4 linked regions of the Homo sapiens genome follow. The protein of the gene in region 1 purifies or fractionates together with the protein of each later gene. This does not show direct contact. Each region holds a gene or a part of one and is shown in the gene's direction. Other genes may lie near its edges.

What was found.
Region 2: the proteins of AXIN2 (region 1) and AMER3 purify together in Homo sapiens (co-immunoprecipitation; one study listed by IntAct). This does not show direct contact.
Region 3: the proteins of AXIN2 (region 1) and AMMECR1 purify together in Homo sapiens (co-immunoprecipitation; one study listed by IntAct). This does not show direct contact.
Region 4: the proteins of AXIN2 (region 1) and MAP3K2 purify together in Homo sapiens (affinity purification with western blotting, with the first as the bait; one study listed by BioGRID). This does not show direct contact.

The regions. Positions count from the first base shown.
Region 1 is NC_000017.11:65,551,649-65,555,148, reverse strand, and holds part of AXIN2 (axin-2), read left to right. Parts: intron 1-3,500. UniProt on the Homo sapiens protein: Inhibitor of the Wnt signaling pathway. Down-regulates beta-catenin. Probably facilitate the phosphorylation of beta-catenin and APC by GSK3B.
Region 2 is NC_000002.12:130,754,349-130,758,339, forward strand, and holds the start of AMER3 (APC membrane recruitment protein 3), read left to right. Parts: upstream 1-1,191; 5' UTR 1,192-1,326; exon of another isoform or gene 1,327-1,534; intron 1,535-1,995; exon of another isoform or gene 1,996-2,033; intron 2,034-3,991. UniProt on the Homo sapiens protein: Regulator of the canonical Wnt signaling pathway. Acts by specifically binding phosphatidylinositol 4,5-bisphosphate (PtdIns(4,5)P2), translocating to the cell membrane.
Region 3 is NC_000023.11:110,213,586-110,217,085, reverse strand, and holds part of AMMECR1 (nuclear protein AMMECR1), read left to right. Parts: intron 1-453; coding exon 454-568; intron 569-3,500.
Region 4 is NC_000002.12:127,381,476-127,384,975, reverse strand, and holds part of MAP3K2 (mitogen-activated protein kinase kinase kinase 2), read left to right. Parts: intron 1-3,500. UniProt on the Homo sapiens protein: Component of a protein kinase signal transduction cascade. Regulates the JNK and ERK5 pathways by phosphorylating and activating MAP2K5 and MAP2K7. Plays a role in caveolae kiss-and-run dynamics.

The DNA.
Region 1 (3,500 bases):
CACTCAAAGGAGCCTCGTTTTTAACGACTTGTTTGTGTCCTTACTGATTTGGTGTCAGGTTTAATATAAATAGTTGGGGCGGAAGAGCAGGAATTATCCTCAGAGGGCAGGACTCTGGTCTGAGTGGTTGAGGGGGATGCCTGGGCTTTTGACAATGGCTATAAATAACCTAGAGCAAAAGCAACTTGTTGGTAGGAGCACGTGTAAAATCCCCGGCACACAGACACACACACGCACAGTGTCGAGGTGTGTGCGAAGGGGGGTTGTGGGATTGGGCACTGGGCCCAGCATTTATTTTGGGGAGGAGAATAAGGTGCTGGGTGCACAGAGCCCTCCCTGTGTCCTCGCCTTTCTGCACGGGCCCTTGTGTGTCCTGCCCAAGGTGGGGCTCATCTGCCTCCCATTGGGCCCTCTGCTCTGGCCTCCCTTAAAAGAAGTCGGGCCCAGCAGATGGCCCTCTGCTGGCTCCGAGTGCTGCTTCCAGTTCTCTGAAAGAACTCGCTGATGAGGCCCGTTTTTGTGCGGAGCCATTGGAATCAAGCTTGGCTTCAATTATCAAAGAAAATGATGCCATAGGAAAGATATGCTGGAAGCAGTAGTCCACAATTAGAGGATGGAAGCTCTGGTGAGGGCAGTTTGCTAAGATCCACTTGTAAAAGTTTGCCTGTTTTCAAAAGGTCCCGTTGCCCAGTGCTGTTGGAGTCCTGGCCCCTTGCCGAGTGTCCCTTGATCTTGCCTTAGAAAATGCTTGTTGAAGAGGGTATTGCCTTTTGGGCAGTGACCTTGTGAGTAAATTTTCAGAGGGCTCTTGGAAAGCCCTGAACGCACAGACTTAGAAGCATATACTTTTGAAGTTGCATTGTTTTGAGAAGGGAACGTGAGGAGGAGGAGGAGGAAGAGGAAGAGGAGGAGAAGGAGGAGGACCCCTATGGTCAGTTCTGTCAGGTCAGTTCTGTGCTCCCTGCCTGGAGGCTCCCCTCTGGTTTATGGGGAGGGGCAGGGCCACAGCATCTCATTAAGAGGAGATAAGAACAGGATAGGGGAAAACAGAAAGCAGCCGGCACCTCCTTTCCCTGAAGGTTCCGGGGGTCTCTGCCACCTGCAGGCTGAAAACCCTTTGCTTACTGAGGTTGCAAACCAGGTCTGTGGATGTGAGGCTGATGCAGAAGCTGCAGCATAGGCCTCTACTCTGTGTAGGAATTTAAAATCCTTGCAGCAACTGGAAGCACAACAGTCCTGAGGAAATAAAGCATCTGGGTACAATTACTGTAGCGTGGTTTGAGTTTCCTCCCCCCCCCCCCGCCTTTTTTTTTAAGTAATCACAAGAAAACAGCCCCACTCCGTTTTCTTAAAATTATGTGGCACTTTTGACAAAGGTCTGGGTTCTGAAATACCGAGTCTCTGCCTCTCCCCACAACCCTGCCTCCTTTCTCTGCCCTGTCTTGTTATGATTGTGGGAAAATCCAAGTACTTTATTGCAGTCAACTGAGTTAAGAGCAGTATATTCCATTTTTAATTACTGGTCACACAGTAGTCCTCTATGTTGGAAGTGAAGGGAGACAAGTTTATTTTGGGATCCATGTGTTAAACAACGAGTGCAAAGCCGTGTGAGCACACATAGGGTTTGAGTTAGGTGTCTTTTTTGCTGGGAGGAAGGAATTTTCTATTGAGTCATTTTCTCCCCACAGAGGTTGAAGTATAGCTCTTACAGTGGAGACATGGTTGATGTGTTAATACCACCAAGATAGCAGGACTGAAGGCATGGAAGAAAGAGTGTTTGAATGCTATTTAAGGCTGTTTTGGCTTTTTTGGTGTTGCACCATGCCTGTTAAACTAAAAAACTTTTCCAGTGACCCATCTAATGGTCTTAGGTCCTTTAAGGAGAGTCAGCAAGGTTTTCAGTCACTGCCACGTGCCACTCACTACTTTCAGCGTCGGAGATTCGTGTGAGGACAGGGCTGTCCCTCATGGAGCTTACAGTCTGGTTTCACAGGACAGGTGTTCAACATGGAAACACCAGTGTCCAGTCATTATAGATCATGATAAAGATGATGAAGGAAATTAGGGCAGTTGAGAAAATGGGAGCTCTCTGGTTTTTTGTTTTTGTTTTTGTTTTTTTTGAGATGGAGTTTCATTCTTGTTGCCTAGGCTGGAGTGCAATGGTGTGATCTCTGCTCACCACAACCTTTGCCTCCCGGGTTCAAGCGATTCTCCTGCCTCAGCCTCCCGAGTAGCTGGGATTACAAGCACGCGCCACCACGCCCGGCTAGTTTTGTATTTTTAGTAGAGACGGGGTTTCTCCATGTTGGTCAGGCTGGTCTTGAACTCCCGACCTCAGGTGATCCACCCATCTCGGCCTCCCAAAGTGCTGGGATTATAGGCGTGGGTCACCGTGCCTGGCTGGGGCTCTCTGTTTTTGTTGGCACTCGGTTTTTTCTTGGAATTTTCCTGTGATTTCCCCCAAATTACTGTGCCTTTGTTGGTTCATTTGGAGGACCTCAGAACTTGGTGCAGAGGCCATGATCCAACTGCCTGCTCTTCAGGTGGGTGCCCACCTCTGGAGGGGTTGTGACTCAGCCCAGCAGTGAGCACTGCAGCCAAGCCGGCAGCAGTGCCCAGCCTCTGACTTCTGGTCCCTACTGAGAGTTTACAGAATGTGGCCTCATCACTGGATTCCTAACAACAGGAAAAGGCCCCAAGGAAGTCATCGTGTGCATCCTGCTTCAAGGCAGTATCCACGCCTTACTTACGCACCCAGATGGCTGGGCACTTTGGCCTGTTTTAAAGACTTGGGTGATTTCACAGCCTGTCCCCACCTACTTTATGGATTTCCTCTGACCATTTAGAAGTATTTTTTTCTCTCTAACTTTTGAAGTCTATTTCCCCTTGTTCTTCCTTTAGTGGGGATGCTGAACAGAGAGTCCCCCTTCTCAACTACGAGGCCTTTTTCACTGAATCAACCTTCTCTTCTCCAGAAGAATGAACTGTTCTTTTTACTCTCACCACTCCTCTCTGCCCTTGGTGTTGGGGAATTCCGGATTGAGGACACATGGACCAGGAGGAAGGCCTGGAAGATCTTACCGTTCTCATTTAATTTTCACCAAAAAAATCCCAGGAGGTCGTGAGACTTCTTGCCCTCTACAGATATGAGAACAGGGTCAGAGTGTCCAAGTGACGGTCACAAGTCACTTGGTCAAAAGTGTTGAGGGGTTCATGTGCAGTGCTCCTGGTCTGCACCTTCTGGTCAGTTCTATGCCTACAGCATATTTCTAAGATCTGACTTGATGCAGTCGGACAGGATCCAGGGCACAGCTGTGGTCCGGCTCCTCTGGCCAAGTCTGACAAGGCCTTTGGCCCACATGGTGCTAAGTTACCTCCTTGGGTGGTTGTGATGATTACAGGGGTCCCTTCTGGCTTAAAAAGTTTATGGCCCTGTAACTTTTTGTGTGTGTTTGGTGACTCCAACAAGCGCAAACTCCTTAAAGGCAGAGACTGCCTCT
Region 2 (3,991 bases), on another chromosome or scaffold:
CACCATGCCTGGCTAATTTTTTTTGTACTTTTAGTAGAGAGGGGGTTTTGCCATGTTAGCCAGGATGGTCTTGATCTCCTGACCTTGTGATCCGCCCGTCTGGACCTCCCAAAGTGCTGGGATTACAGGCGTGTAAGTCAGTGTATTGTAAAAATAAAATGTAAGTTCACATTAGAATAATATTTAAGAAAAATCATTCAGTGGTATCTGAACTGGGTAGCCTAGTGTAAAAGATTTTTCCAGGAGTCCCTGGGGAAGACCTGATCCCACATCTTGGGGAAATAAAAAATTTGAAATATATATTTTCATGTTACCCAAAAGTTAGGGGTGTTTGAAAACTGTCTGAAATGACAAAGTAGAAGGGTTGGAACAGTTTGCAGTGGCCGAACGATGACCATGTGAGCATCGAAAATGAGCAATTGTCACTCACTGGAAGAAGCTGAATCTGTAATTATCCTCACAATTACATGATTTTATAAGACACATTAAAAAATCCTTAAATGCAAAAGCGGGGAGAGCCTAATAAGGAAGGCTAATGCTTACTAATTTTAACAAGAGGAGGACTGTGGGGTCTGCGGGAGTCCTACCCCTGACTTGGGGTGTATGTGGCAACGAGGCAGAAACTGCCTTCTGTCCTACCTAAGAGAAAGACAGGGAACTCCCACAGCCAGGATCTGCCAAAAAAGGTCAAGACTACCAGCAACATGGGCGAGGGGGCCTCTGGGGTCACGTTGAGTTAGTCGCTGCATAGAAAGAGGGCTCAAATCTAAAAAATGCAAGAGGGTAGGTCACCCAAGGGTGGGGAAGGTCTTGGCTGGAGGATGAAGGGGCCTCTTGTCTCTGGGGCGAGGCGATGTCAAGGGGAATGACAAACCAAACCAGTCCAAAGCAAGGGGACTCTGTGTCCTGGGTTCTCAGACAAGGTGACCGGGAGGGAGCCCACCAAGCTCAGGGAAAGGCCTGGCCTCCGTCATCCACCTGAGCTCTGCCTTCCCTTCAGCCTTAGCCTCAGCGTGGACCCGGGACTCCTGCATCCTCCCGTCCTGCCCCGCCTGGGCACACCACGGCCGAGAGCCTCCTGTTGGCATCAGCCTCTCCCCAGCACCGACTGTGCGCTCCCGCTCCCCCCTCCTCCCCACAACCCCGCCCCACACTACTGGCACTGCTGCCTGAGCCTTCCTGGAGTTACTTAATCCACCCCAGCCCCAGGCACTGAACCACGCGTGCAGACCCCTCGTCCTCAGTTCTGCGGAGACAGAGTCCCCACAGCATTTCTGCTCCTCCCTCAAGACTGCGGCAGAGCACAGCACCAGTAGACCCCACACAGTGAGTACCTGTAGGGCAAGTGCCTCTTTCGTTCTCTTAATAATAGAGTCAGGTCCCTTCTCCAAGGGAAGACCCTGCCTTGCAGCCCCAGCCTGGCCTGCCCCTTCTTGCAGGCCCGCTCCGAACCCTGGGTAAGACTCGTGACGAGGCTCCGGGTGGCCGAGCCCTTCCGAGAGTGCTGCGGTCGGCAGGGCTGGGCTGGCTCTCTGGGCTGAGGGGGAGGGGCTCCCACACCTGTGCGCTCCCGGAAGAGGGGACAGCGGCGGGGGCGCCGTGCGCACGGGGGCGAGGGGAGACGACTGCACCTGAGGGAGGCGCAGCCGCAACCGGGTGGGAGGCAGAGACACCCAGAAACAGAGACGGGGCGATACGAACAGACAAAGCCGGCTCGAGCGCGGCCCGAGCGGCGGCGCAGGGAGGCGGCAGCCTGGCGGAGCAGCCCCCACCGCGGCCGGCGCGCCCCCTCGCCACCCCTGCGCGCCAGCGCCGGCCCGCCCCTCCCGCTGGCCTCTGGCGGCTTAACCCTCGCCTGCCCGACCCCGCGGGGCCCCTGGAGCCGCGGTGGGTGGGTGCGGGCGCCGGGCCTCCCCCTCCCGGCCGCGGCGCGCGGCGCCGGGAGCTGACCGTGGTGCTGAGCGCGGCTCGCGCTCCGACGCGGTGCCCGAGCCTGTCGCGGCCGCGCCCTGCTGCACTGCGGGCCCCCAGCGGTAAGTCGCCAAGGCCCCGAGAGGCTGCGTTGGTCCTGCCCCGCGGATGTGGACCCCCGGGGAGGGCAAGGATTGGGGAATTTGGTGCATTCTCTGGCGCGATGGACGGGCTGAGGGCAGGAAGCAGGGTCGACACCCTCCACCCAGCGGTTCCCGGCGCAGTCAGGGGCCTGGGAGCGGTGACCCTTTTAGGTCTGGGCTAGGGAAGCGGAGAAACCCTCCGCCGGCGGATGCAGGAGCTGAGGGAGAGCCAATATCGCTGTGAGGCCCATCTCCTTGCCCCTGGGCAGGCCAGGACCGCCCAGAGGCGCCCTCCAAGGAGGTGGGCCAGGACCTTCCCTCCCCAGAGGGCCCTTTGTCTCCCCAGTGTGGGGGTTGGGTGGCTTGGTGGTGCTCTCACCGCAGATTCTATTTCTGTTTTATTCCCCATTCCCACCCCCACCCCAGAGCACGGTCGCTTTCCCTCCGCACAGTGGCCCTCACTCCAGCCCTCCCATGACAAGGCAGCCTACTACTGAGAACGCTATTGCCCCATAGCTCTACCGCCAGCCCAGTTTCCAGAGGTCCCTGGGCCTGCGCTTTTTTATCACCATACACTCCTTTGTATCACACTGCTGTGACTTTCCTGCATACCGGGGAAGGCATAGAAAATACCAAAACTATTAGCCAAACGTTTTTTTGTCTCAAGGCGTTTCTGTGGCATGTGTATTCCTCCAGGGTTTTTATTTTGCTCCATGAAATCAAACACCGGGACACTTTCAGGTTAAGAAAGGAAAAAAAAAGCCACGGAATTACCTTCTCAAAGGAAAAAGAAAAAGCTGGGCAGCTAAGCCTGAGTTGGTCATGTAGAAAAGCAACCAGTAGAATAACTTCATTTGCCCAATTTGCAATAAATCCATGTCTGTGTGTGCCGTGTAAAACACTGTGATGGGAGGTGCACAGACAGAGGAGTCTCTGCCACCACCTTCTCTCCCCTAAACCCTGCTTGGGCTCCTAACTCGCCTCTGTGTCTCCGCTGTCCATTTTCACCTGCATCTTTGAAAGTGAGAATTGGCCCGTCACTTGCCCTGGAAGGTTGGCTCCCTGTGGCTTGCAGATAAAAGCACGGCCCTCGCTGAGACCTCAGGCCGGGTGTGGTGTGTACAGCCCATCTCCAGGCCTCATCCCTCTGGCTTGCTGCTCTGGTCACTTGAGCTGCTTTCAGATCCTTAAATATTCTACTTCTCTTGCTCCTCGGGGCCTTTCTGAAGGGTGTTCTCTCTGCCTGGAATATGTGTCCAATGTCTTTTGCCTGGCTGTCCTCTTCTGTCTTTTAAGTTTGGTTTAAATATCACATCCCTGTAACAGAATTAATTAAGTAAATACATTGTGTGGTCCCTGTTCCCATGGAACTTGCAAGTTCGTCTTAGAGATGAAAGACTCAGCCCAGGGTCCTGGTGTCAATGCTGTCTTAAAAAATGATGCACATAGGCCGGGAGCGGTGGCTTACGCCTGTAATCCTGGTACTTTGGGAGGCCTAGGTGGGAGGATCACAAGGTCAAGAGATCAAGACCATCCTGGCTAACACGGTGAAACCCCGTCTCTACTAAAAGTACAAAAAAAATTAGCCGGGCATGGTGGCGGGTGCCTGTAGTCCCAGCTACTCAGGAGGCTGAGGCAGGAGAATGGTGTGAACCCGCGAGGTGGAGCTTGCAGTGAGCCAAGATCACGCCACTGCACTCCAGCCTGGGCGACAGAGCGAGATTCCATCAAAAAAACAAAACAAAACAAAAAACCCACCATCCTGGCCAACATGATGAAACCCCATCTCTACTAAAATTAAGAAAAAAAAAATTAACTGGGCGTGGTGGTGCGTGCCTGTAGTCCCAGCTATTCAGGAGGCTGAAGCAGGGGAATCGCTTGAACCCAGGAGACGGAGGTTGCAGTGAGCCTTGATCACACCACTGCACTCAAGCCTG
Region 3 (3,500 bases), on another chromosome or scaffold:
GTTTGTATACATATATATGTATACATACACACACACATATACACACACATATATATATAATTTTACTGCCACCAGCACTAGATCCAGAAATCTTCCTACAAGTTTCCACTAGTCTAGTTTTTATTCTTCTCAAAAGCAAAATAAAACATTCTTAGATTCTACAAGTAGCAGGGAAAGACATCAGGAAATGGCTGTACAGGAAATGTAATTGATGATTCTCTCTTTACAATTGAAGTGGTCACAAGATTGGCTAGCAAACACAATCTATTAAATGAAAAAAAAGGTGACTTCTAAAATCTTTGGGGAATTTGAATACATTTGAAGCTTGTTGGTACCTTTGACATCTTACTGATTCTTTTTGAAACTCTTACCTTTTTCAAACAATTGTTTGCATTTGAAATTGGGAACTTTCATATCCAGTGATTGCTTTAATATTTGCTTTGTTTTTAACAGTGCCCTTAAAGATAGCCGTTTTCCCCCAATGACAAGGGATGAGCTGCCACGGCTTTTCTGCTCAGTGTCTCTGCTCACTAACTTTGAAGATGTCTGTGATTATTTGGACTGGGAGGTAAGATTATAGAAAAATTTTTAAAGAAAAATGAAGGTAACTCTTGAGGAGATGTTAAAAATTAGGCCCAGAAAATAACTCTTTCAGCCCATTCTCTATTGTAATGGAGGTCGAGAGTAATATGGATGAATAAACCTCACAACTGAACGAGATATAAGTAAATGAGTTTTTTAAAGGACAAAGTGCCACGTGTTGTTATAATCCCCAAACTGAATTTGGTTTTCATTTTTCTCCTACTACCTCACCAAAGCACCTCATAAAAGCTGTTAATAAGTAATAAGAAGGACTGACTGGAATTTATTTCTCCTCTTACTTTCATTCTGGTGCACTCTGGTATAACCGCCACTAAGTAACTAGTTGGTCAGAGGATACATCTCAGAAACAAGAAGAAATATTTAGGATAATACACCATTTGGGGGAATCAGCTTGTGATAACAACAAGGTATTGATTAACTAGAGTTAAATAATGTGAATTCATTCTTGGCTACCTTAGTTTATACACTTAAACACTCTAACAAATAATACTAAGGTTATTTCTAGGGTATCTCTGTGCATTGCTATTGTTAGAGTAGCTTATATTGATCATATTTTTATTCTTCTTTAGTACATGGGGTTGGCTAACATTGTTAGTGAAGTTCAAAGGTTCTCACCATGATTTGCTTTGGTGGCTGGGAGGAGATGTTGAGTGTAGGTCTATTGGGTCTATGAAATTTTACACACAAGCATGCCCATATTACTGAATGCCTGTTTTATTCCAGGCAATGTGCTCCATGTATAAAAGTGGTAAGATTTGGTTCCCACCATGAAGCATGTCATAATTTAGTGGCGAGTAAATGTGTATAGAAAGTATGAAGAAATAAGTGCTATGAGAATGAAACAATGGGAACTCAGTGATAAACATAACATTCTCTCTCACACATACACTCATAAATGGCATTATTGTATCCTTATGACAGATTTTAATTCTTCTGCTGTTTTAGAAGGACCATCCCCCATAGTAACTGAACTATTCTGCCTTGGAGACAGATCACTGTCTTCACAGTTTATTAGACTTGAATTTAATTTTGGCTTTGCCCTGATTCCTTGTGAGACTTTGAACAATTTACTTACTCCACTGCAATTCAGTTTTCCAATATACAGAATAAGACATTTATAAGGTTCTTCATTTGAAAAAAAACTCTATGATATAAATTATTGTTGTTATACCAGAGCTATTTAAAAAGTTTTAGGGGGTGGGGTGAAAAAAAACTTTTCTACAGAGAGTACAATGCTAGAGTCCCCTCTGGGTTTTGTGCTAAGATTTTCTGGAGCATTATCAGAATATGAACACATCTTAGGATTTTTGCAAAGGAAGAAATAAAATAAATTTATACTGTTGTTCCTACCAAAGTTGGAATGTAGAAAACCTTTTGTAAACTTGAAATTTCTGATTTATTATTTGCTATAAGTTTGTTGTTCTTACTTGATTTTTCTTAAAGAAAAGTCTACAAATATTATGGAAATATTCCTTAGTACTTTATTTTTAAACAGCCCCAAATCATGTTCCCTACTTATTAACATATATTATAGTCTGGGTGGTTCTTTTACTGTTTTAAGGCTGCTGTTTCCTCTTCCGCAGCCAGATTTACTTTTGCTTTCTGGATTGCAGGGTGTTGTGTATGTAGTAGTGGGGATGGGAGTGATTATATGGGAAAAGCCTGAGATCCAAGGGGGATGACCAAGCTACAAGAACACTTCTACTCTTGCAGCTACTGAGTTGGAAGTACAGTTCTGGCATGTGTGTTTCTGTGTGTGTGCATGTGTGTGTGTCACAAACATGAACATACTAGTATTACATAAATGTGTGTGCATGTGTTTTGGGGGAAGGAAAAAGGGGAGAATACAACAGCTGTTACATAGGCATGGTTAAGCACCGAGTACATCATCATCATCTTTAGCCCAGTTAAAGCACTATCTACAGCTAAAATTAACCTTGATATTATTGGACTATTATGTCCAAAAGATACATCAGCTTTCTGTTTGTTAGGAGAGTGGGATGTAAAGCCCTTAAGAAGTAGTACTGTGTACTCCACTATATACTCTTTCAAGGCATATTTATCCTCTTTGGTCACCATCTGCCAGCCTGAATTTCCAGAAGATTCTATATTGTTCCTACTTGGTATTGTGTATTTAATATATTTTAGGGGGCTTAAATATTAATTTCTATTAAGTATTAGTTCCCTATTGAAGCAAAAAATACACTTTTTTTTTTTTTCGAGACAGAGTCTCGCTCAGTCGCCCAGGCTGGACTGCAGTGGCGTGATCTCAGTACACTGCAAGCTCCGCCTCCTGGGTTCACGCCATTCTCCTGCCTCAGCCTCCTGAGTAGCTGGGACTACAGGCGCCCACCACTATGACTGGCTAATTTTTTGTATTTTTAGTAGAGATGGGGTTTCACCGTGTTATCCAGGATGGTCTCGATCTCCTGACCTCGTGATCCACCCACCTCGGCCTCCCAAAGTGCTGGGATTACAGGCGTGAGCCACCGTGCCTGGCCCCCATTTTTTTTTTTTACTTTTAATATACAAGTATTTGAAAGTGAATTAGTTACTGTTAGAATGGCTATGCTAAGAGGAAAAGCCCATCCTTTTCAGTTAGTTCATCATTGTTTCAGGTATTTGGCAGAAGAGAAATTTGTATACAACGAATAAGGGTGGAAATTATATTTTTAAGTACAAGAATGTGATTTGGTCTTAAAAAAATATGTACCTTACTCAGTGATTGAAAATGGAGTAATAGTATTGTGGGAATGATATTCTAAGGGTTATCCTTAATGATTCTGAAAAAGCATTACTAAACACAGAATGCCAAAATGGAATTAAAGGCATTAAAAAATTATACGTTGACACAATTTCACTTCTAGGTATATACCCAAAAGAATTGAAGTGTTGAA
Region 4 (3,500 bases), on another chromosome or scaffold:
TCACTAGGAGTAGATTCCATCTCAAGAAGCCACTTTCTGTCCAGGCGTAATGGGGTCACGCTTATAATCCCAGCAGTTTGGGAGGCTGAGGCAGGAGGATTGCTTGCGCCAAGGAATTCAAGAACAGCGTGGGCAACATGGCAAAATCCCATTAAAAAAATATAGAGGTTAGCCGGTTGTGGTGATTTGGGAAGCTGAAGCAGGGAGAGTGCTTGAGCCGGGGAGGGGAGGTCAGGGCTGCAGTGAGCTGTGGCAGTGCAGACCAGCCTGGGCAACAGAGCAAGACCCTGTCTTAAAAAAAAAAAAAGGCCACTTTGTTTCCTCATCCATAAGAAGCAACTTTTCATCTGTTCAAGTTTTAGCTCTGCTTCTAATTGTAGTTCTCTTGCTCTTTCCGTCACATCTACAGTTACTTCCTCCACTGAAGTCTTAAACCCCTCAAAGTCATCCATGAGGGCTGGAATCAGCTTCTTCCAAATTCCTGTTAATGTTGATATTTTGACCTCCTCCCATGAATCATCAGTGTTCTTAATGGCATCTAGAATGATGAATCCTTTCCAGAAGGTTTTCAATTTACTTTGCTCAGATCTGTCAGAAGAATCTGATCACTGTCTATGGTAGTTATAGCCTTACAAAATGTATTTCGTTTGTTTTTCTTTTTTTAGTTTCACAGTGCGTATAAAGTTATGTTTACAATATACTGTAGTCTGTTAAGTGTGCAATGACATTCTAAAAAAGCAATATATATATATATATATATATCAATTAAAAATTATTTGTTGGCCGGGCACGGTGGCTCACGCCTGTAATCCCAGCACTTTGGGAGGCCGAGGCGGGCAGATCACGAGGTCAGGAGATCAAGACCATCCTGGCTAACAGGATGAAACCCCGTCTTTACTAAAAATACAAAACAAACAAACAAACAAAAAAAACCACTAGCCGGGCATGGTGGCGGGTGCCTGTAGTCCCAGCTACTCGGGAGGCTGAGGCAGGAGAATGGCGTGAACCCGGGAGGTGGAGCTTGCGGTGAGCAGAGATGGCGCCACTGCACTCCAGTCTGGGTGACAGAGCGAGACTCCATCTCAAAAAAAAAAAAAAAAATTATTTGTTGCCAAAAAAATGCTAGAAGAACATCTGAGCCTGGCTCAGGCTAGCCTAATTTTTTTATTTTTATTTCTATTTTTAGAGTTAGCATCTCAATGTGTTGCTCAGGCTGGTTGCAAACTCTTTGCCTCAGATGGTCCTCCCACTTTGGCCTCCCAAAATGTTGAGATTACAGGCATGAGCCACTGTCCTGGCTGTATTTCTTAAATTAGGAAATGCATCCAAGTTGGAAAAGTCAAAATACCCTATTCCCTGATGACATGATCTCTGTCATATTTAGAAAAACCTAAGGATGCCACCAAAAACCTCTTGAATTTGACAAATAATCCAGTAAAGTGTCAATACAAAATCAGTGTACAAAAATGAGGAGCATTTCTATACACCAATGACGATCCAACTGAAAACTAAATCAAGAAAGCAATCTTCAAAAAAAGAAAAAATCCACCTAGAAATGTATTTAACCAAGGAGGTAACAGATCTCTATAAGGAGAACTACAAAGTCCTGATGTAAGAAATTCTAGATGACACAGACAAACGGAAAAACATCCCATACTCGTTGATTGGAAGAATCAGTTTTGTCAAAGTGACCATACAACCTGATATGGGTTGTTTATTTGTCTCCTCCAAGTCTCATGTTGAAATGCAATCCCCAGTGTTGGAAGTGGGGCCTGGTGGGAGGTGACTGGATCATGGGGGTGGGTGCCTCATGAATGGCTTAGCAGCGTCCCCTTGATGATGAGCAAGTTCATGTGAGATCTGGTTGTTTAAAAATGTGTGGCATCTCTCCACTCTCTCACTTGCTCCTGCTCTTGCCAAGTGAGGTCCTTGCTCCCACTTTGCCTTATGTCATGAGACCTCACCAGAGGCCAAGCAGGTGCCAGCACCATGCTTCCAGTCCAGCTTGCTGAACCGTGAGCCAATTAAACCTCTCTTCTTTATAAATTACCAAGCCTGAGGTTTTTCTTAAGAGCAATGCAAGAATGGCCTAATACACTACTCAAAGCAATCTGCAGATTGAAGGCAACCCCTATCAATATACCGACATCTGCTGGGTAGAGTGGCTCATGCCTGTAATCCCAGCACTTGGGGAGGCCAAGGCAGGCGGATCACCTGAGGTCAGGAGTTTAAGACCAGCCTGACCAACATGGTGAAACCCTGTCTCTACTAAAAATACAAAAATTAGTGGGACGAGGTGCCAGTAGTCCCAGATACTTGGGAGGCTGAGGCAGGAGAACTGCTTGAACCCAAGAGATGGAGGCTGCAGTAAGCCAAGATCGTGCTGCTGCACTTCATCCTGGGCAATAGAGTGAGTCAATTTGTAAGAAAACACATTATTATCTGTGAAGCACAATGAAAAGTGAAATAAAACAAGGTATACCTCTACTGAAAGAAGAAAACTATCAAACTAGAATTCTAGATCCTGGAACTATGTATTTCAAAAATAAAGGAGAAATAAACACTTCCAGATATCTTTTTTTAAAAAACACTATGAAGCAGAATAAAATGAAGCTCAATAAAATGAGATATACTTGTATATTATTTTCAGCTGAACTCTTTGAAACTAAGCTATGGACATTATGACATTTTACCTCTCAATATGTCACATGCATCTCCTAAAGTTAAGGACATTTTCTTACATAGCCAAAATACCATTATTGTTACTTTTCTTAGGTGCGATACTTCTTTCATATACTCTAATATATATCCATATTTACATCTCATTCGTACTGAATTGTCATTTGTGGTTTGTACACCCATCCCCACCAAATCAGGATTTCATCAAAGTTTATTCATTGCATTTAGTTGTTAAGGCTTTTTGATCTCTTATAGTCTACAGCAGTCTCACCTCTTACACCCTTTAAAAATGACAATGATTTTTTTTAAGAGATCAAGACAGTTGTCTTATAAAGTGACTCATATTCTCGATTTGTCAGATTCCACCCCCCTCCCCCCGTCATAGCATTGTTTAGCTTGTTCCTGTATTCCCCCATACCAGTTGTTAAGTGTAAACTAGATTTAAAGGGTCGATTAGTTTTAATTTCAACATTTTGGACAAGAATACCTAATAAGTGATTTAATATATTTTATATGCCTCCCATTAGGAGACGTACACTGTGCAGTCCCATTATTTGTGATACTAAGTTTGATTGCTTGGTTGAGAGGAGTAAGGTGAGGTATATTTTTCTCACTGCAGTCAGCAAGTAATCTGTGGCATGATAAATTAGCACTGTAATGCTAGCCTGTTCTCCAGTGATCTTTTACCTAATAGTTGTGGTATCTTTTGCTGATCCTTGTCAGGCTAACTTTTAAATTTCAGTGTTAATAAATGTTTGTTGGTCTATAGATGGAAACAAATCACAGGAATTAAAAAATATCCAGCTAGGTTAATCAGAATC